3 linked regions of the Homo sapiens genome follow. The protein of the gene in region 2 purifies or fractionates together with the protein of the main gene of each other region. This does not show direct contact. Each region holds a gene or a part of one and is shown on either strand. Other genes may lie near its edges.

The links. The genes of interacting proteins can lie anywhere in the genome.
Region 1: the proteins of DOK4 (region 2) and HMG20A purify together in Homo sapiens (affinity purification with mass spectrometry; 4 studies listed by BioGRID and IntAct, with this or other methods). This does not show direct contact.
Region 3: the proteins of DOK4 (region 2) and SMARCAD1 purify together in Homo sapiens (affinity purification with mass spectrometry; 3 studies listed by BioGRID and IntAct, with this or other methods). This does not show direct contact.

The regions. Positions count from the first base shown.
Region 1 is NC_000015.10:77,423,494-77,431,104, forward strand, and holds part of HMG20A (high mobility group protein 20A), read left to right. Parts: intron 1-7,611. UniProt on the Homo sapiens protein: Plays a role in neuronal differentiation as chromatin-associated protein. Acts as inhibitor of HMG20B. Overcomes the repressive effects of the neuronal silencer REST and induces the activation of neuronal-specific genes.
Region 2 is NC_000016.10:57,483,217-57,490,810, forward strand, and holds the start of DOK4 (docking protein 4), read right to left. Parts: upstream 3,278-7,594; 5' UTR 3,089-3,277; intron 1-3,088. UniProt on the Homo sapiens protein: DOK proteins are enzymatically inert adaptor or scaffolding proteins. They provide a docking platform for the assembly of multimolecular signaling complexes.
Region 3 is NC_000004.12:94,273,471-94,281,081, reverse strand, and holds part of SMARCAD1 (SWI/SNF-related matrix-associated actin-dependent regulator of chromatin subfamily A containing DEAD/H box 1), read right to left. Parts: intron 7,466-7,611; coding exon 7,366-7,465; intron 6,345-7,365; coding exon 6,285-6,344; intron 6,193-6,284; coding exon 6,117-6,192; intron 4,744-6,116; coding exon 4,608-4,743; intron 4,061-4,607; coding exon 3,923-4,060; intron 2,661-3,922; coding exon 2,565-2,660; intron 2,467-2,564; coding exon 2,349-2,466; exon of another isoform or gene 2,160-2,348; coding exon of another isoform or gene 2,154-2,159; coding exon 2,032-2,153; intron 491-2,031; coding exon 302-490; intron 1-301. UniProt on the Homo sapiens protein: DNA helicase that possesses intrinsic ATP-dependent nucleosome-remodeling activity and is both required for DNA repair and heterochromatin organization.

The DNA of each region.
Region 1 (7,611 bases), on a different chromosome or scaffold from region 2:
TTGAGATTTCATTCCATTACTTGCCATATATGTAACAAAGAAAGTGTCAAATCTTTTTTTCAAATACTTGGATTAGATAACCATTTTCTTTTCCAAAGACAGTCATTGGATACACTGCTCACAGCAGTTTGAAATATTAAAACCGTAGGTCACAATTCTGGATTCCATCTGACTGAAATTAGATTATCCACAGAGATGTTATACATAATACAGAAGTGTCTTTTCATTCTTTCATCTACTTTACTTTGTAAAATCAGGCTAATGTTTTGCAACTGTTGCTTTCCTTGTTTGTCGTTTTGGTGGTGGTTTGTTTTTGTTGTTGTTTTTGCCGTAGGGTTGAGGATTAAAGAAAGTATCTTAAGAACCTGAATGGTTTTTCACCTTACTGCTTTGCTGTCTCTATTTCATAGCCTTCACAGGTATTCAAATGAGAATACCCTTTACGTGACTTTTCATTATTTAAGCAAAAGTTTAGAGTGTCTACTATATGCCAGTCACTGTTCTCAGGACTTTGAATACAGTAAATACGGCCAAATATTCATATTCTACTGTAGTTTACTCTCTAATTTACAAATTAAAACTAGAATTTTGCTCCCTTGGTATTCCTAAATAAGATCTATGTTATGATCGTTGTTCAGACTGGGTAAAGAAGCAGCCCTAAACTTGATCTCTCCTGGTCTTAATCTCTAAGCCATTCTAAACCCAGATTTGAATGTTTCAGCCTAATTTTTCTCCAGACCATAGAAGCCCCTGTGTTAAATATGCAGTCCCTTTCATTGATACATGTATCATTTTCCTACCATTCTAGCTTCTTTTGTATTGTGAAAACAAATGAGAGTGAACAGTGGGGAAAATATGGGATCAGATAGGCCCAAATTCAGCACTGGTCTCTGCATTTTACTGGCTGAGCTTACTAGCTTGGTAACCATGAGCAATTTATTTGACCTCCCTAAGCCTCAGTTTTCCTAAATCCAAATGGGGTTGTTTGGTGGAATCAGAATGTTGTATGTAAATCTCCTGGTCCAATGCCTGGTGCCAGAAGCTTCATTAATGCAATTATCTTACCCCCAATCTTGCTTCTGCTACTCTGGCTATTGTGATTTGCCCACATGTCTGTTTTAAGCTTTACATTTTCCCCACAGTATGGGATGCAGTGGTAGACTGACTGAGCTTCAGCCTTGTCCCCCTATCAGCATGCTCACACAGTTGTCAAGATTTAATTTTTTTTCCTTGTGGGAAGGAGAAATCACTAATTTCCATGATTAGAAGATATACAAAATAGAAAAGTTTCAAGAAAAGGAATCTTAATCTTGGCACAAATCACTAAGGTAATTTGAATTGTTACAGGCAGACTTTCAACTCATTCTCCTAAACTTATTTAAATACGAAAACCAAAAATGACCTTTCACACTATGATCATACCTCACATTATTCATCTACACATCCAAACGGGATCGCCTCTGGGGGGAAAAAAATCTGTACTGCACCCAGCATTAATATTTTTTTTTGCTCATGCTATTTTCTGCCTGAAACACTCTTTTTTCCTAGGAATCCCCATCTATCAAAATGCCACTTTCTTTGAGGTCGTTTCTCAAGTACCACATTTAAGAAATATTTTCTGATATCCATCCTCTTCTACACTCTCCCAAACTGTACACGTTCTGTCCATTAACTCTCCAGAGCATTATACCTTTCTTACAGCACTTACTGTCCAGTGCTCCTCTTGTTTGTTTTTATTGCGTTGTTGTAGGTAGAGTTTATGCCTTCCCTAAAAGGCTGCAGACTAGGTCTTATTCCACTCTGTGCTGTCATACCTGGCACAAGACCATTCACATCATAGGTATTCAGTAAATATTTGTGGACGTGAGCTGGCTCTTGGAGTATGACAAAACTGATCAATAACTTTTGTCCACAATTATGCCCAGCATCAGCACAATGGCTATCATACATTAGACACTCAAATATCTATAAAATGAAAGAGTGAATAGTAAGTCATCATTCTCTCATTTGGGAGCTTCTTAGGGTGTCAGATAAGCATATATTAAGCACCTCCTATATAACTGGAGCTGTAAGAACTGATCTCTGCTCCTCAATTTAATTGGAAAAAAGTAAATTGTTACTAATATCTGCAGACTTTGAAGATGGTAGGTGTTTGAGTAGGGATGGCATGGAGAGCTTAATATAGAATTGTTTGCATTGTGAGAGATACCCTCTGCTACCTGAACTCAGAAACCAAATAGATTTTTATATCAAATATTTGGACACTTAACTTGTATTTCCACTCCTAGGTATATATCCAAGAGAACTTAAAACATGTTCACACAAAAACTTGCACACAAATATTTGTAGCAGCCTTATTTGTAAAAGGCAAACTCAAATGTCCATTAATTATTGGATGACTAAACAAAATGCGATATAGCCATACAATGGAATATTATTCAGCAACAAAGAGAAACAAAGTAGCAATACCTGCTGTAACATGGATAAAACTTGAAAATATTAAAGTGAAAGAAGTCACATACAAAAGGCAACCTATTATGTGATTCCATTTATTTAAGATGTCTAGATTAGGCAAAACTAATAGAGACAGAAAGTACATTAGTGGATGGGAATGGGAGTGACTGCTAGTATGGAGTTTCCTTTGGAAGTGATGAAAATGTGCCAGAATTAGATAGTGGTGGTGGTTGCATAACCTTATATACTAAAATATCTTGTATACTAATATACAGTTGACACCTGAACAATGAGGGGGTTCGGGGTGCTAACCCCTGTGTTGTCAAAAATCCATGTATAACTTCTGACTCCCCAAAAAGTTAACTACGTAAATAGCTTACTGCTGACTGGAAGCCTTACCAATAGCATAAATAGTTGATTAACACATGTTTTATATGTTACATGTACTATGTACTGTATTCTTACAATAAGCTAGAGAAAGAAAATGTTACTAAGAAAATGATAAGGAAGAAAAAATATGTTTACTATTTATTATTCGTTAAGTGGAAGTGGATTATCATAAAGGTATTCATCCTTGTCATCTTCACATTGAGTAGGCTGAGAAGGAGGAAGAGGAAAGGTTGGTCTTACTGTCTCAAGTGGTGGAGGCAGAAGAAAATCAGCATATAAGTAGACTCATGCAGTTCAACCCATGTTGTTCAAGGGTCAACTGTACAAAAAAAATCCTGAAATATACACTAAAGGGGTCAGTTTTATGGTATGTGAATTATATCTAAAAGAGAGAGATACTTAGACTTGAAGAATAGAGAATTTTGAATGGAGCCAGAAGAAAGAAGCAAGAGGTGTGAAAGCAAGGAAATGATCATTCTTTCTCAGATCCTAGAGAGAAATATAAGCAGCTAGGTACAGGGCTAAAGGTATGTTAAGGATCAGGTGAGGATGGATATGAGGATAGCTTCTGGGTTTTTGTCTTAATGTAGCAGGGATTTTGGTAAATACTTAGACTACAGAGGTATTAACAAAGGAGAAAAACATCTTATGACCTTGAAGGAAGCTTCAGATTTCTTCTTGATTAGGTCAAGGATGTGGTATATGGTCTTTTTGGTTTCTGTGTTACGGTCAGCTGAGTTTAAAGAGTGGGAGTATTCTAAGGTAAGGAGTCTAGTAGCAATCAAAACAAAGTTACTGGGGAAGATGGGAGAATAGAGACTAGACAAAGATGTTAGAATTTGATTCTAAAGCTCTCCTCAGGTAATAAAAATAGATAAATCTTAATGAGAAGGAACCAAGGGCAGTGATTTGGAGAAGTCAGTACAAATAAAGGTATTCATTTGAAGAAATATTTGAGTGCCTTTTATGTGCCAGGCACTATTAAATAAAACTATAGCTATTTTCCTTATTTGACTTTTTTTCTGAAGATAAAATCTTATGAGTGTGATTAATGGTTCTACAAGCATGGGTAGTTCTAGATATGATACCTACATTTCCCTAAAAGATTGTACTGATTTTTAATGATAACAGCAATGTATAAGGATGTTGTTTTCACCACGATTTTACCAGCAAAAATATTTGGCTAGTTGAACACACATAAAATTATTGTTCTCTTTGCTTATAATCTGATAAGTGTTTCCATACCTTGGAACCTGGATCTGTTGGAACATGAAGGAATTCAGGACCCTTATACATGTTACCCCATATGGCTTCTTTAAAGGATATGGATTTTTGAGGATCCTAGAAATCAAAATTCTCTAATTTTATTCAGCTCAAAAAAAAATTTTATTCAGTGCTGCTGTCCTTATTTTCTGAATAATATTCAGATTCAGACCACACTGAGCCATAATTCCAATTCCCACTTGACTAACATTTATGTAGTATTGTGCTAGGCACTACATGTTATCTTAATTCTAATAATTTGGCATTTTTCCATATGAGAAAAATAAGATTTAGAAAGATTAGATTACTTGCCCAAAATCACTTAACCAGTAAGTGGTAGAGACAGGATTTGAATGCAGATCCTCTAAGGCCAGTGTTTATTCTCATACTGCATGATCCCTCAGTATCACTACTAAAATTTACTGGAGGATAATGGAAAGTGGAAAATCTGAACTGGAACTTGGGACAATCAAGCACTGACTTACCTGTGTTCATAATGAAGCATTTAGCAGAGATGTTGTTTGTTGTTTTGTTTTGTTTTTACTGGGGAGGCTATAGTACATAAACAGAGCGAAAGATCTTGGTATGGTTAAACCCACATTTTCAAGGCCTTCTGTGTTCTCCCTGATGATCAGGTACCTACTACCCCAAAATCTGTGATGGTAACAAAGAAGGAGGAAGGCAGCTGTAGAAAAGCAACGGCCTTTGGGTATACCCAGTAAGATTTATGTGATTGTAGAAAGAGCAGGCAAATGGCTTGGCCTTCAGAGAATCCCACAAAGTAAAGTAACCTTTTAAAATAGTAACTTAAAGTCTGACATAAGATTCTTAACAGGATATTCATCACAAGATAAGATATTCAAAGCATAGCGTGTAAGACATTCAAAGCATATCAGCAAAAAAGGAGAGATTCCTTCATTTTTATTGAAGTATGGTATACTCACAAAACAAATTTAATATCAGGAATATAAAACAAGAGATACGATGTTCCAATTCTGGCTTTAGTCGGATATTATAAAATTTAATCCCAATTTATAGATAAGGCAATTCAAGGCTCGAGATTACACACCAAATAAGTGGACTCTAGGCTGGGTGTGGTGGCTTCTGTAATCCCAACACTTTGGGAAGCCAAGGCAGAAGGATCGCCTTAGCTCAGGAGTTTGGGACCGGCTTGGGTAACATAGTGAGATGCTGTCTCTACAAAAAAATAAAAAATAGCCAGACATGGTGGTATATACACATGTGGTCATAGCTACTCAGGAGGCTGAGGCCAGAGGATCGCATAAGCCCAGGAGTTCAAGGCTGTGAGCTGTTATCGAGCCACTGCACTCCAACCTGGGCTACAGAGCAAGACTCTGTCTCAAAAAAAAAAAAAAAGGAGGGGGGAGCCTCTAGAACATAGGCCTTTAATCTGTGTGGTTGTTTTGCAATTTATATGTATAATTTTTAAATAATATGTTGGCCGGGCACAGTGGTTTGTATCTATAATCTCAACACTTTGGGAGGCTGAGACAGGAGGATTGCTTGAGGCCAGGAGTTTGAGACTAACACAGGCAACATAGCAAGACCCCATCTCTACTAAACAAAATAATAATAATTTAATATGGTGGGTTTTTTTGTTTTTTTTGTTTTTTTGAGACGGAGTCTTGCTCTGTCTCCCAGGCTGGAGTGCAGTGGCGCTAGTGAGCTCATGCAATTCTCCTGCCTCAGCCTCCCAAGTAGCTGGGATTACTAGCGCTTGCCTGCTTCAAAAGAAATGATTTCCAGCACCCCATTTTTTCTTTTCCAGCCTCAAAATTCATATCTCCTTTTTTTCCCCCATGTCCACATGTCCTTCATTCCTATACTTCATAGCTTTAATTCCTGTTCTCTTGATACAAACCTTCATGTTTGTTGCTTGATGGCATCATAATTATCATAACTTTTTGGCTTAATAACAGTAGCAGTTATATCAACAAATAATAAAATGTTCATACTTTTGAGCCAATAATTCCACATATAGAACTTCATTCTGAGAAAATACTTTAAATAAGAAAAATAGTTAAAGGCACAAAATGTTAATAGCACTGATATCTATACTGTCTAAAACTTGAAACCTTCTAAATATTCAACAATATAATAATGCCTAAGCAAATTATTGCCTATCTACTCAGTGGGCTGTAAGACATTCATTTTTCACAATAGCGTCTTTAAGAATACATTGAAAGATGTTGTAAGAATGTTTTTGCAAAAATGAAAAGGAGAAACATCAGAAGAAAAAGTAGAAAAACTAATGTGATTGGTGTCTATTTCTGAAGCATTTATATTTTCTATATAATAATAATTTACATTTACTGACCACTTACTTGTGTCAGGAACAATACTCAAGCAACATTATAGAAGCAACAATTTGTAGTTATTGAAAACTGGTGTTCTAGAATCAAATCTGAGCTTCATCACTTACTAATATGTGGTCTTGAAAAGGAAATGGAGGATAACTATGTCTACATTAAATTATTAAATCTATATAAAGTATTTGGCACATACAAAACCTACAATAAGAATGTTTTTGTTATCAGACATTTTATAAATATGTCTCATTTAATCTTCACATCCTCACAGTAACCTCATTAGATAGTGTTAACGTTCATTTTACATGAAAGAAAATTGAAACTTCAAATGTTTAAATACTCTAGGTTAAATAACTTGCCGAATCACTTAACTAATAAGCAGTAGAGTTTTTATTCAGAGCCCAAGCTATGGTTTCCACTTATGACTCTGAGAGATGAGGTTGCTGCAGACTAATGCTTTTGCTAAGAACAGGAAAGATGAGAATTAAAAAGAAAAGTGAAGGCATCAGAGACCTGCTGAGGCATCCAGGACTTAAGAAACCACAACCATAGAACCAAAGGAGCTTCAGAGAAGTGGGCTGATGTTCCATGCTTCTCTTTTTTCCTAGGAATTTGCTAATTCTTAGAGCATGACAAGATGCTGTGAAACTTAGCAGAGGGTTTCTTCTAAAAGCAGAGAAGCTGTTAGTTTTATGGGGCGGAGCAGACAAAACTTGGATTTTAGAGATCTCCAGGTAGCTAGTTCTTGGGTCAAGATCCCTAGAGAAGGACAGTACCCAGAAACTTTTTTAAAACTTGTTTTCCCCTCACAGTGTTTGCTAGGCAGAGTCTAGAACTGTAAGAAAGTTAATTTGTATTGCTTTAAGCCAATAGCTTTGGATAACTTGTGACAGCAACAATATGAAACTATTACAGAGACATGAGGAAATGATGAAGAAGTCTAACATACATATGACTGGAGGAGAGAAAGTTAGAAGCAGTAATATTTTAAGAGACAGTGATTGAGAATTTTCTAAAACCGATGACAAATATCAAGCCATGGATTTGAAAAGTGCAAGAAACGACAAGCAGAATAAATACAAGGAGTACCACACTTTCATTCTTCATAGTAAAAATAAAACTGTTGAAAGTAACCAGAGGAAAAAAGACACATAATCTTCAAAGGAACAATTAG
Region 2 (7,594 bases):
GGGTCAAGTGGTGAGGGGGGGGCCCAGAACCAACCCACCATCCTCCAGAAGGAATGCACTGTGTTAAGCAAGCGAGGCGGCCCCCAAGCTGAGCCTGTGAAGGCCCAATAGGACAGCAAGAAGTGGAGAGCAGACCAGGCACAGTGGCTCACACCTGTAATCCCAACACTTTGGGAGGCCAAAGTGGGAGGATCACTTGGGGCCAGGAGTTCAAGACCAGATCCGGCAACATAGAGAGACCCCGTCTCTACAAAAAATGAAAAAATAAGCTGGGCATGTGGCACGTGCCTGTAGTCACAGCTACTGGGGAGGCCGAGGTGGGAGGATCACTTGAGCTCAGGAATTCCAGGTAGCAGTGAGCTATGATCAAGCCACTGCACTCCAGCCTGGGTGATAGAGTGAGACTGTTTCTAAAAAATTTCAAAAAAATCAATTAAAAAAATACAAAAATTGGAGGGCAGCTGAGGCTAGGCAGGCCAGGAATTGGGTTGAAGTAGCCCCTGCCCTGTTTGTCCCTCAGGCCCTTGTCCCCAACAGGCCTGCAGCAGGAAGAATGCTTGCTACTTTGAGAGGACCTGAGGTCTTGGGTCCTTCCCCAGCACTGTGAGCTCCGAGCTCCCAGCTAAGCACGGTGTCCAGCAGTCGCTCTCAGGGTTCCAGTGAGGGAGGAGGGGAGCAAGGGCCCCCCGCATCCCACCTCCCAGCCTGGTACCAATACTGCTGCTTACCCAGGGACAGTACCTGCCTGGTGCCAGGCCACCACAGGTTTCCGCGCAGGGAGAGCCAGCTCCAAAATGCTCCTCTCCCCAGGAAGGGCTGGTGTCCTGGGGTGGCGGGGAGTAGGGAGACTCCCAGGGCCCTCACTGCCCACCTGCCCCACAGGGCAGCCATGCTGAGCACTCCCTCTCGCACATGGATTCTGCCTGGAGGCTTTGGCTCCAGAACAAACGCGCTGAGGCTGGCAACCAATGACTGAGCGAGCGGCTGCCTGCCTGGCTGGGCCTCCCCACCCCTGACAGATCGGATCTTATCAGGGCTGCAGGAACAGCCCTACCTGGACACCATCTCAGTGTCGTCTGGCTGTCTCGATCCAACGGCGAAGATTGGATCTGTGGGATTCTCTCCAGCACCAGAGCCATTTCCCATCACCTGCTGCTCTGCCCCCACCCCACCCCAAGATTGTTGTCAGAGGCCGGCTGGGAGTGCTCCCAACAGATCCCCATAGGGGCCACCGGCCAAAACATGGTGAGTCCCATCAAGGTGGATGGCAAAGACAGACCAAATACCCATCTAGGCAGACAGGGACGGCAGAAGGAGGGGACATCTGAACAGCCATGGTCCCCCAGACCCTTAAGCCAGGAGAGTAATGCTGTGGCCCCGTACCACTCTGGTTCTCCTGGGTCCCCTGCCCACCCCTCAACATGCCAAAACCCCTCCCTCGAGGGACCACTGCACTAGCTGTTTCCCACCTACAACATTGTTCCCTCACATGCTCATGGTTCATTCCATTGCTTCATCCACCTCCTCCAGGAGGCCTTCCCTGACTACCCTCACCAAAGGACCCCCACTAGTCAGCCTCTCTCACAACATCAGATGCGGCTGTCTTCATCGCACATCACCATGGGATTTTCTTGTTCTTACATCTGTCCATTTGTTTCTGGCCACAGAGAGACATCTGGAATGTCAGCTCCCTGGTGGCTCGGCCTCGTCTGTCTAGTTAACAGCTCTATCCCAGCTCCCAGAATGGTGCCCGGTGGGAAGGAGATGCTCAATATTTGGGGGCTGAACACGTAATTCTCTCCAGGACTTGTCCTCCTCCCCATCCTTTCTTCCACCACCACCAGCCTCCATCTGGCTGGACCTGGCTCAGCTTCCAGAGGTGCGTGAGCCACAGTGGGCTCCCAGCTCCTGGGTCTCAGCGCTGACTGGCATGGCCAGCAGGCTGTTGTTACTGGAGAACCAGCTGTGCCCAAGACCCGCAGTTTGGTTCAGAGCTGCCTCAGGGAAGAGCATGCTGCTGACATCGAGGCCAGGCCTAGTTGGGCGGCCCCACCTTGGCCAGGGTTGTGGGGTGAGGTCATGCCCAGCCCTGCTGCCCTGCCCAGGAGGGAAGTGCTGGGAGTAACCAGTACCAGCACAGCAAGGCAAGCAACTGGGGAGAGGAGGCACAGCTCCTGGGATCAGAGTTGGGGGTGGGGGCAGGAAGAGCCTGTACCAGCGCCACATCCCTCTGAAAGGGTCCAGGAAAGAACCTGCCCTAAGCAAGCCCACCTCACACTGCCCAAGTGGAGTCTCCTAGAGATACTGCCAGGCCCCTCGCTGCCCTGGCCATCAGACCCCTCCAACCCACACCCTCCATCCAAGCGGAAGCGCCCCAGCAACTGACGTGTCCCCATGGCTTGGGGCAGGCAGGCTGCACAGAGCCCCTGCTCTGCCACATCACCCAGGTGCCCAGCCTCGGCTCATGCCCCTTTTCAGTAATAGAAAGCATGTAACTGGATCTAGGGCCTTGCGGGCCCTGGGGGAGAAGGTGGACAGGACCTTGGGGGCCAATGGAGAAAGGTTCAAGGACAGGAGGCAGCTGGCCATGAGTTTGGGCTGTGGGGAGAAACCCCATAGGCAGGAGGGGGTCGGCAGTGGGGGCCAGCTGGGGTACAGAAAATCATCTCTTGGAATTTGGAGGAGGTGAGCGAACAGGAGGCCCCGGGGAGGAGCAGGAAGGCAGAGAGAAGGTTGGGAGCTGCCAGGGGCTGGGTTATGCCCCTTCCGGGGGGGCAGGCCCGGGAGCGCAGGGCCTGGGTTGCTCGGATGAGGTTTGTGTGGGTGCGGGTGAGGTCAGCTCGCGACCTGGGCTCCCCCGGAGAGGAAAGCTGCGGGTGGAGAGAGCGCAGGGAGTTTCAGGGCCCAGGCACTGGCTTTTGGGGGGCGGGTCTCTAAGCTCCCCACCCGAGAGTAGGAAGGTCCCATGGGACGGAGCGTCCTCAGGTTCAGGAAGTGACTGAGGGTCCTCAGGGGTGGGAGTCGCCGAGACTCTTGCAGGCTCTGGGCGGCCTATGTCCCCCTCCCTGCCTCACGCCCCCCAATTTACCTGGGCGCCGAGGCCCGGGCCAGGAGCGCCTGCTCAGCGGCGCCGCGGAGCAGGCTCATGCCCGCGTCACGGCGCGGCTGGCGGGGGCGGCAGGGCGGCGGCGGCGCCGGGCTCCAGGCGGGGACGGCGAGGGAGGCGCGGCCGCAGGGCTAGGGATCGGGCTCCGGCTGGGGCTCCGGCTGGGACTCCGCTCCGCTCCCCCCTCCGCCAGGTCTCGCCGCTGCGCCCCGCCCCCTGCCCCGCCCTGGCGGCCGGCCCCCGCCGTATTCCTCCGAGCCGCGGGACGCGCGATTCTGCCCTGGCGCCCTGGCACCCCCGCACCCGCTTCAGGTCGCCCCCGGTACCCCCAGCTCATTCCCACCGCCCCTCCCTGGGCCCCAAAGCCCACATGGCCTCTCAGCCCCTGAAAGCTGAACTCCACATCAGCTCCCAGCCCCCACATCTCAACCCCTTCACTTCTTCAGGAATCACATACACACCCATACGCCACATCAGCTCCCAGCCCCCATATCTCAATTCCTTCACTTCTTCAGGAATCACATACACACCCATTGCTCCCCTAACCCCATCATGACTCTCTGGGCCCTCACAGCCCAGCTCTCCCAGCCCCACAGTGACCTCCTCTGCTACCCCTCCTCAAGTAGCCGCACCAGCACCTCTGTCTTCCCTGGTCTCCTCTCCACCCTCAAAACATCCAGTTCTCCCATTCTAGGTCCCCCTGAGACTTTGCCCTCAAGCTCAAACTTCATTCCCCTTCATTGCTGCCCCCACCCAGCCCCCAACCCCCTCACCTCTGCCCTTCGGGCCTGTGCAGTGGTTGACTCACTGATCTGTCGGAATCCCCAGTCACAGGCCTCAGCTGTGCCAGGCAGGGACAAGAGAAGTTGCCCAGTGCCTCCTCTGGGGAGGAGCTGTCCCCCCTCTGGTTTTCACGTCTGTACCTTTTTACACCAGGGCTTCTCAAAGTGTAGTCCCTGGACCAGAAGCTTCCCATCACCTTGAAACTTGTTAGAAATGCAAATTCCCTGCCCTACTCAGACCTATGAAATCAGAATTTTTGGGGGTTTCCAGCAGAAATGTGTGTTTTAACAGGCCAGGTGATTCTGATGCACACGAATGTGTGAGAACCACTGCTTTAGACCATATATACAAAACAAAACAATAGGCCACCTGAACAGCCAAAATCCTGAGAAATGAAAATACCTCCACATCCAGCTACTGTCCAGGTGTCTCAGAGGAATAGGCCTAAAGCAGTGAGGGACCAAGGATCCCAACACCCACCCATGGAATGCATGCCCCTGCCCCGGAGACGCCTGGGCCTCAGCCTTGCCCAGGGAGCTTAAAAGGAGGCTGCCTCTGGATGTCTGAAAATTTCCCTGATGGTCATTGTGGTGTCTGTGATCAGCCTGAGCTAACCAGCCCCAGGCCCATGGCCAAGCTAGCCTGGGCCTCAACCTCCTGACCTCCCTATGCGTCTTTCAAACTTGACCTCACCTGCTTTGCTTCAAACCACAGCCCCTAAAGCTCCCAGCACTTGATTCATCATAGCAAACTGTTTTTCAACACCAGAAACCTCTAGGGGAGCTTTGGCCAACAACAACAACACAAATGAATTTTCACAATAAAAAGCCTTCTTTTTTTGTTACTGAGGCTGGAGTGCAGTGGTGTGATCTCAGCTCACTGCAACCTCTGCCTCGGGGCTTAAGTGATCCTCCCTGCTCAGGCTCCTCAGTAGCTGGGTCTACAGGTGTGCACCACCACGCCTAGCTAATTTTTTGGATTTTTTTGTAGAGACAGGGTTTCACCATGCTGCCCAGGCTGGTCACAAACTCCTGAGCTCAAGCAATCCACCTGCTTCGGCCTCCCAAGGTGCTGGGATTACAGGCATGAGCCACTGCACCCCATGTGATGATTTGCTTTTTTACTGTTGAATTTCGAGAGTTGTATATTCTACCTACTAGTCCTTTGTTGAATATGTGGTTTGCAAATATTTTCTCCCAGTTTTTGGCTTGTCTTTTCATCCACTTAACAGAGTCTTTCACAAAACAAAAGTTTTAAATTTCGATAAAGTCTGAATTATCCATGTTTCCTTTTATGGATCACACTTTTGTTGCCTAATCTAAAAACTCTTTGAATTTTCTCCTGTGTTTTATTCTGAAAGTTCCATAATTTTATTTTACATTTAAGTCTGTGATCCATTTTGAGTTGAATTTTATAGGAAGTGTGAGATTTGATAGAGGTTTTGATGTCTTTTTTTGGTTTAGGTTTGATTTCATTTTTTTTTTTTTTTGCCTGTGGATGTCTGATTGTTCTAGCTCTATTTGGTGAAAAGACTCTCATTGAATTGCTTTTGCAACTTCGTAAAAAATCAGTTGGACATATTTCTGGATTCTCTGTTCTATTTCACTGATCTGCATGTCTATCTCTCTGTTAATAACAGTCTTGATTACTATGCCTATATAGTAAGTCTTAAGGCCAGGAGCAGTGGCTCATGCCTATAATGCCAGTACTTTGGGAGGCCAAGGCGGATGGATTACTGGAGGTCAGGAGTTCAAGACCAGCCTGGCCAACATGGTGAAACCCCATCTCTACTAAAAATACAAAATTAGCTGGGTGTGGTGGCGTGTGCTCGGGAGGCTGAGGCAGGAGAATCGCTTGAACCTGGGAGGCAGAGGTTGCAGTGAGCCAAGATCGCGCCATTGCACTCCAGCCTGGGCAAAAAGAGTGGAACTCTGTCTCAAAAAAAAAAGTCTTAAAATCAGGTAGACCAGTGGTCCCCAACTTTTTGGCACCACAGACAGTTTCATAGAAGATAATTTTTCCATGGATGTTGTGGGAGTGTTTTCAGCATGATTCAAGCACAATACCTTTATTGTGCACTTTATTTCTATTATGATTACATTGTAATATATAATTAAATAATTACACAACTCACCATAATGTAGAATCAGCGGGAGCCCTGAGCTTGTTTTCCTGCAATTAGACAGTCCCATCTGGGGGTGATGGGAGACAGTGACAGATCATCAGGCATTAGATTCTCATAAAGAGCCTATGACCTAGATCCCTCGCATGCACAGTTCACAATAGGGTTTTGTTCCTATGAGAATCTAATGCTGCTGCTGGTCTGACAGGAGGCGGAGCTCAGGTGGTAATGTGAACAATGAGGAGCGGCTGTAAATACAGATGAAGCTTCATTCATAGCTGCTCACCTCCTGCTGTGCAGCCAGGTTCCTAACAGACCACAACCAGTACCGGTCTGTGGCCCAGGGATTGGGGACCTCTGAGGTAGATTGTTATTAATTCCTCCCAAGTTATTGGTTTGTTTGTTTGCCACAAGGTTTCACTCTGTCCCCCAAGCTGGTGTGCAGTGGCATGATCATAGCTCACTGCAGCCTTGAGTGCCTGGGCTCAAGGAATCTTCCACCCTCAACCTCCTGAGTAGCTGAGACCACCATGCCCAAGTAATTTTTTAAATTATTGTGTAGAGATGGAGTTCTTACTATGTTGCCCAGGTTGGTCTCAATCTCCTGGCCTTAAGTGATCCTACCAGCTTGGCCTCCCAAGTGTTGGGATTACAGGCATGAGCCAATGCGCCCAGCCCCAACTTACTCTTTTTCAAAATTGTTTCAGCTGTCCTGGTAATATTCTCTATCTTTCTATGTAAATTTTAGAATAATGTTATCTATATCTACAGAATATCTTGCTGGGATTCTGATAGAAATTACATTAAACCTGTATATCAATTGGGGAGCATTGACATTTTTACTATGCTGAGTCTTCCAATTCAAGAACACAGTATGTCTCTCCATTTATTTATTTATTTCTAATGTCTTTCATCAGCATTATGGAGTTTTCAGCATACAGGTCCTATACACATTTTGTTAGCTTTCCACCTAATTATTTTATTTACTTATTTTTGGTGATTTTAAATGGTATTGCATTTTTAATTTTGCTGCCCATGAATGAGTTCATTGCTGGTATATGGAAATAATTTTTGTATAATTATATTTTGCAACCTTGCTGAACATATTAGTTCTAGGAGGTTTTTGTCTTTTTTTTTTTGGTAGATTCTTTGAGATTTTCTACATAGATAATCATGTCATCTGCATGTAGAAAAGGTTTTTTTCCTCTTTTTCTACCTATTTGTTAGTGGTTTATCACATTGGCTAAAATGTTCAGCACTATGTTGTAGTATGAGCTGACATCCTTACCCTGTTGCTGATCTTCGGGGAGAGCATTCAATTTTTCATCATTAAGGACCAACGTTAGCTGTAGGTTTTTTGTAGATGCTCTTTATCAAATTGTGGAAGTCCTCCTCTCTTATTTTTTGAGAGCTTTTTACCATTAATGAACGTTTAATTTAGTCAAATGCTTTTCTATACTAATATATGATTTTTCATCTTTAGCCTGTTTTTTTGTTTGTTTGTTTGTTAGTTTTTTTCCTTGAGACAGAGTCTTGCTCTCTTGCCCAGGCTGGAGTGCAATGGCACCATCTCTGCTCACTGC
Region 3 (7,611 bases), on a different chromosome or scaffold from region 2:
GTCTTTAAAAACTAATTTTGAAGCACACATACAGATTGTCACCTATGAAATAATGACAATTAAGATTTTTTTAAAACATCAATACAGATACAGTCTACTAACTTTCTATTGTTTTTGTCTGAGGTTCAACAGAGGAAAGGAGGTAATCAAGAAAATACGTCAAGAAAATGTTCAAAACACTAAGTTCTGGAAGAATGCAGAACAGACATAGGCTAATTCAAGCAAGTCAGTGTGCCAGAATTGCTTTAAGAAGTTAAAGTAATTGAGAAAATACAAAAGAAACGCCATTCTTTTTTAATACCTTCTGTTTCAATTCAGACAAGATGCATCCTAAAACTCGAAATTTTCCAGAATCTAAAATCAAGTCCATGTCTAACTGAAAGTTATTAATGTGTCGGTACTGTTTACAAAGTACATGTAGTTCGAAGTCTGTCATAACTTCCATATCTTCAAAGATCAGGTCAGGGTTAGCCTCACAATGTGTAGGTTCCTTAAAACAAAACAAAACACAGTATACTTCAAAATAAAAATAATTAATAATATGATGAGAAAAGTTTAATAAAACTGTTTATACCTGATAAAATATCTAAATCATAGAACCTTTTAGTGTAACAGACTTATCAAGGAAAATTAGTATTAATCTTTTAGGTATAATAAAGGGGGAGAAGTCCTTACTGTTTGAGAGATAACATACTAAAATATTTACAGATGAAATAACATCTAGAACTTGGTTCAAAATAACCCTGGGGAGAAGTCTGGGGTATAGATGAAACAAGGGTGGTGTTATTATCAAATGGTAACTTTCAAAGGGGTGAAGTAACATATGGGCAGTTTCATTATGCAATTCTACTTTTATAAATGTTTGAAATTCTCCATAAGTTTAAAATAATAAAAAAAAATTTAAAAAGAAATGGGTTGGTCAGGTGCAGTGGCTCACGCCTATAATCCCAGCACTTTGGGAAGCCGAGGTGGGTAAATCACCTAAGGTCAGGAGTTCGAGACCAGCCTGGCCAACGTGGTGAAACCCCATCTCTACTAAAAATACAAAAATTAGCTGGGCGTAGTGGTAGGTGCCTGTAATCCCAGCTACTCAGGATGCTGAGGCAGGACAATCACTTGAACCTGGGAGGCGGAGGGTGCAGTGAGCAGAGATCATGCCATCGCACTCCAGCCTGGGCGACAAGAGCAAAAGTCTATCTCAAAAAAAAAAGTAAAGAAAAGGAAGAAAATGGGTTGCTTTCAACCAAAGATCAGTAAGGATAAATAAGGTTAAAATGTTAAAGGAGAAAGAGGCAAAAATAAAGAGTAATTGCTAAAATTATAAAGAAATAAAATGAAAAAGAAGTGCATTATGGAAGTCTAGACTAGGAGTTAGCAAACTGTTCCTGTAAAGGGCCAGATCATATTTTAGGCTTTGTAGGCAAAATGACCTGTAAGGCAAGTACTCAACTCTGCCCCTGTAGTGAGAAAGCAGTCCCAGAAAACAAAAACAGGCATGACTGTGTTATAGTAAAACCTTATTTATAAAAATAGTCACTGCCGTAAGGCCATAGTTTGCTGACTTATAATGTAGGTTATCAGTCCTTCTTTGTTTTTATGTCCCCCAGATCATTTTGAACTTAGTCTAAAATGTGTTTTTCGTGTTTCAGTGCAGTGACTGATGCCTGTAATTCCAGCACTTTGGGAGGCCAAGGCGGGCGAATCGCTTGAGCTCAGGAGTTCAAGACCAGCCTGGGCAACATGGCAAAACCCCATCCGTACAAAAAAATTAGCCGGGCATGGTGGTGCGTGCCTGTAGTCCCAGCTATTCAGCAGGCCAACGCAGGAGGATGGCTTAAGCCTAGGAGGCAGAAGTTGCAGTGAGCCCAGACTGCCTGCCTTGGCAACAGAACCAGACCTGGTCTGAAAAAAAAAAGTTTTTCTTAAATATGTAGTTAAAGGTTTAGTATGCCCATTGGGTTCACCAATCTTATAGCCTAACAACTTAACCTCTTATTAAAGCTTAGTGTTAACATAATATGAAATCCTTACCTTTAGCATAAGCTGAGACATTTCCTTGAGTTTTTCAGCTGTGTAATATTGGCGATGTAATAAAGGATGATTGGCCATTTTCCTCAACTGCATCATGACATTGCACATTTCTGTGTTTTTTTCTGTGACTCAAAGAGAACACAGTAAAAAATAAAACCAAGCGGATAACTGTTGAAATATATCAACTAAGTTTTAAAATTATTTCCTCAAATTCCAGATAATTTTTTAAAATGCACAAATCCCATTATATGACTAAACAAAATGCATCCCCAGTACAAGATTCTTTTTCACATAAAAGAGTAAAAATCAGATTATACCCAAGTTATTGATAGATTTTTTCAATCTGTTGAAAAGACCCAAATAGAGTTGCTCCTGCTTCTCCGACATTGCACACAACTCAATTCGATCTTTCTTGGGGGGTAACTGCTTGAGAACCTGAGACAGAAAAAACAGTTTAAGATAATCATTCTAGTAAAGAGAAAAACCTAAGTTTTAAAAACAATAAAAATAAAAAACATGTAGATATGCATTACCTCTTCTTTTACTCTTCTGAGAATAAATGGCTTTATAATTTGTTTTGCATGTGCTATTCTCTCCTTTTCATATATGCTTTGCTCATCTGCTGATTTCTGAGCAAAATAAAAACATATCCTTTTAGGAATTATTCACTTAAATTATTGCAATAACAGTATTATTACACAACATAAAAATCTCCCTCATTAGAGTCTGAGTTATTTTCTGCAGAAACTTGATTCATTCTAGATGGCACTTCACATCTGAATTCTGGGCTGCCATGTACTTCTTGAAGCTCCATATGTATTTTGAAGTTTTATGATACGTAATCATGTTCTCTACTGAAGTAATCAATTTGAACTGTACCAGATGGGTGTTCAGAAGTCATCAACTGATGAGTCATGTATCGATTACCTAGATAACTCTCATTGAAAAATGTGTCTAAGTGTGGGTAAGGAGGAGCGTGGGGGGTAGAAAATCCTTTATTTCTTTGTGGAAAATGGCCCCAAAAGGAAGCTAGTGCAGACTGATGCAAATCACTTGGTCTAAAAATGGGGAATAGTGCTTAGTCAGAACTGGTGACTCTGGAGAATTAAGAAGTAGAATTTTATTCTAGGATGTGAAGGAGTCCTCCATATATTATGAACTGAAGATAGAAAATGGTTCATAAAATCTGCTAGGCCATTTAAAACACTGTACATTAAGTGGGAGGGAATTCAAATTAGTAAATGTTTAAAAGGCAGTTAATTTGCAGTGGACGAGTATCACAGAAAATTCTTGCAAAAGATTAGTGATGTGGAAGAGAGCCAAGAATCAGTGTAAACACTGCGGTATTGAAAAAACTGGGAGTTCTTGAAGACTATACTTTTCCTAAACAATAAAGAAGTAACAAAACTTTTCTTGTGAAGAGGATTTCTTTACTGTCGCTTTTAGTTGTGACTTTGGTTTTATGAACTTTTATTTCAGAATATATTTCTCAGCATAGGCATTTTCTGGATATTCTAGCTTTGTCTAGTTTTATAGTTTACCCATAAAGAAATGTTACTAATTTACGTAGCCAATTTTGATACAGATGATGTAATGATCAAACTTTCCGCACATACTATATATCTGAGCTCTTCATCAATTTAAAATCGTCATCCTTCAGAAAATTAGGATATTAACCAAGACTTCTGGCCATTGATTAGGGAAATTGCTATTTTCTTTCCCATTATATTTTGGCTGGTTTCCAAACCAATCCAAATATAGAGTTATCACCTACTTAAAGTTACTTCATAGAGCATATGCACTATGAAAACAACAAAAGAGACCTAACAGAAGAATGGCCCAGATAAAACACAAATAACATATTTGGGAGAAAATATGCATTTATGCTTACTGTCTTAGAGGAAAACATTCTTCGTATTTCACTGGTGCTACTACTAAACATGTGTGGCATAACAAAATTCAACAGCGACATGAGTTCTAACAGATTGTTCTGTACAGGTGTGCCTGTGAGCAGCAAACGGTTATTTGCCTGTGAATGAAGGTAAAATTTATATTAGCTTTTTCTTAAAGAGCCACTCCTTTCATGTCTATCCTCCCCAGTGAAAGGTGAAGGGAGGAGAGATAAATTAAAACCATTATTAATAATTTAACATTCTGTGATAAATGATATAGTAATTTAAATAATTGACGTCCGCTATTATCAACAGCAATGAATACGAAAACCATTGGTCTTCTTTTATAAGTAGGTAACTTGTGTCCTCGTATCACCTTTATGAGATGATGAAAGATTATTTATAAATAGTTTAACATATAGAACAGGTAAATTATGGCTTATGACCTAATAATTTTTTAAAGGGTTGTTAAAAAACAAAATCAAAGAATACGTGACAGAGGCCATCTAGTCCATAAAGTGTGAAATATTTACTATCTTCCCTTTTACAGAAAAAACTTGCTAACACAGAATACTACATATATTAAACTACATAATACAGATTCTGCTAATAAATACTACATATATTAAATTACGTAATCTAAATTTTACAGTAATTTGGAAAACTTTACAAACATTCTCTTACATTAATTGTCATAAGGTGCTGGTAGCGAATGGAGCCCATATTCTTCAGCATATGGCCCTCATCAAAAATTGCGTAATTAAGTTTCAGCCGTCGAAACAGACTACGGTCATCAGAACTGCTGATCGCACAGTTATATCTGTCACCAAAAGAAAAAACATCTCTAAGGTTATACCTTTAAGAGCTTGGAGTCTAGTGAAATTTAATGTCTTATAAAATCATTTTTTATTTACACATTTCTAACAGCCAGTACTTAAAGCACAGCACTAGACACGGGTGATACTCAAATAAATACTGACGTACTTGTATTTAATAATTATTGATGTACACTGTAACCAAGCTATGAAAGCTGCAATACATAATTGAAAGAAAATGTTAAAAGGCTGGGAGCGGTGGCTCACACCTGTAATCCCAGCACTTTTGGAGGCCGAGGCGGGCGGATCACGAGGTCAGAAGATCGAGACCATCCTGGCTAACACGGTGAAACCCTGTCTCTACTAAAAATATAAAAAATTAGCCGGGTGTGGTGGTGGGCGCCTGTAGTCCCAGCTATTCAGGAGGCTGAGGCAGGAGAATGGCGTGAACCCGGGAGGCAAGAGGTTGCAGTAAGCTGAGATCGCGCCACTGCACTCTAGCCTGGGGGACAGAGTGAGACTCCGTCTCAAAAAAAAAAAAAAAAAAGAAAATGTTAATGTTACAATCGGACAACTTCTACATACCCAGGAGGAGGTCAATTTGGGTATAACTTGTAAGTAATCTGCTCCATGAAGTGTTATATTTTAATAAGCACAAAAAAGAACGTGAAGCTAAAACATGTTTCTCTTTAAAACTTAATATTTTATTAAACTAGCAGATTAGATCCAAGAAATAATAGTTAATAGCTAGCAGCTTGAGACTGCATATGGAGCCTGTTTTATTAAGAAAAAATAAAATTCCGCATGAATTTTTAAAGGACAGACTCCTACACAAGAAGCCAGTAGAGAGAAATAATAACTACAGTTAAAATAGAACTTTAAATAAATCAACTAATGTAACACAAGAGCATTAAGTTCTGTGCAAGATATTTACATCAATTATTACCAAGTAGTATTATTAGTATTATTTTTCATTTTTATTTCTGCCCTAACTCAAATTTTTCATTGAGAAAATGAAATTTCATTGTATTTATTACAGATACTTATTTGTAAGTTAAAAATATAAATAATTTTGGTGGGATATCTCAAATTTTACTTTAAGCTTAACTGAGAAATTACTATTACAAGACGACTTTTTTCAATAACTAGGCAAAACCTTTTTATAGTCACCATTAATGAGGTGATTCACTAACAAAAACCTCCTATATGGGTATTACACACCAAACTAAAAAATGCCTGAATCCTCAACATTAGTCATTCTATTACTTTCGTATCACAGTTAACAGCATAAACTTTCCTACATAGTACTACTACAATTTCTTTTTTAAATTTGGGGGCTGCATAAATATCCATCCTCCCCAAATTTCTCAATACTTACGTGGTCACAATTACATTGTAATCTTCATATCTACTATGAATGTTAAATCTAATTTGTTTACGTTCTTCTTGAGAACCTAGAATTTAAAAACAATAAACACATGACTATTTATTGTGCTGTACTTTATTTTTAATTTCCAAAGTTAAAAGCAGAATGACATATTCTTACCATAGTAACAGAGGACCTTCAAAGTAGGGCACCATAAATTAACTTCCCTTAACCAGTTATCTATGGAACAGAAGAGACATTATTTGCATCTGCTACAATAGGGTATGTTCACATGGTTAAATTAACACTAAACTTTGACAAGTGCTACTCAGAAATCAGTCTTTTATAAAAAGTAAATACTGGCCCAGCAAGGTGGCTCATGCCTGTAATCCCAACACTTTGGGAAGCTGAGGCGGGTGGATCACCTGAGGTCAGGAGTTTGATACCAGCCTGGCCAACATGGTGAAACCCCATCTCCACTAAAAATACAAAAATTAGCCAGGCATGGTGGCGGGCGCCTGTAGTCCCAGCTACTCGGGAGGCTGAGGCACGAGAACCTGGGAGGCGGAGGTTGCGGTGAGCCAAGATTGAGCCACCACACTCCAGCCTGGGTGACACAGCGAGACTGTCTTAAAAAAAATAAATAAAAATTAAAAATTAAAATATAAATACCATGGCGATTGTTTTTATCACAGACCCTTTACAATATTACTCCTTATGAAACCTATGTAAAATGATCTTGAGGTTTTGTGAGGCATCAAAATGAAGGGCAGATGACCAAATATTATATTTACAGTTGATTATTAACCTCCAATTTAAAGAGAAGGGGGTTTTCTTTGTTACATTCACATGTACAAATATTCTCTTATTCTAACTTCTACATCCAACGAATTGAGAAAGAATGGAACAGTTATGTGTGTAGGAATTAATTACGTATCTGTTTAATTCTACATTTAAAAGTACTCATTTTCTCTTAGTCACTTTTAAAAGTAACTAAAAGTATTATGAAACCAACATAAATCGTCCTTGGTCTAAAATTTTAAAACTGACTTACATTTGAGTTCTTTTTAAAAGACTGCCAATATAATCAAACACACATATATAAACAAAGGAGAAAAGTATAAAGAGACCATAAAATTAATATTCATCTCTACAAACTAAGAAACCACAACACCCCTCCGACACACACCCTTACACACACTCTCTTCTACCTATATAAAACATGATAAAGTTAAATACAGTTGTCTCCAGTATTACAAACCTATAGTTGAAGCTGGAACAACGATCAAATGAGGACCATTATTACCCTCCTGATAGAGGTATGCCAGAAATGCAATGGCTTGAATAGTTTTTCCTAGGCCCTAAAAAGTTTAAAAGACAATATATAACATTTTAAAACAAACAAAAAATAAATACATAAAAATACAGAAGAAAAAGCAGTAATTCTGTGCTGTATTCACTTTTGATTTCCCAGAATGCAACTCTAAAGGAATTTCTACTATGTTCT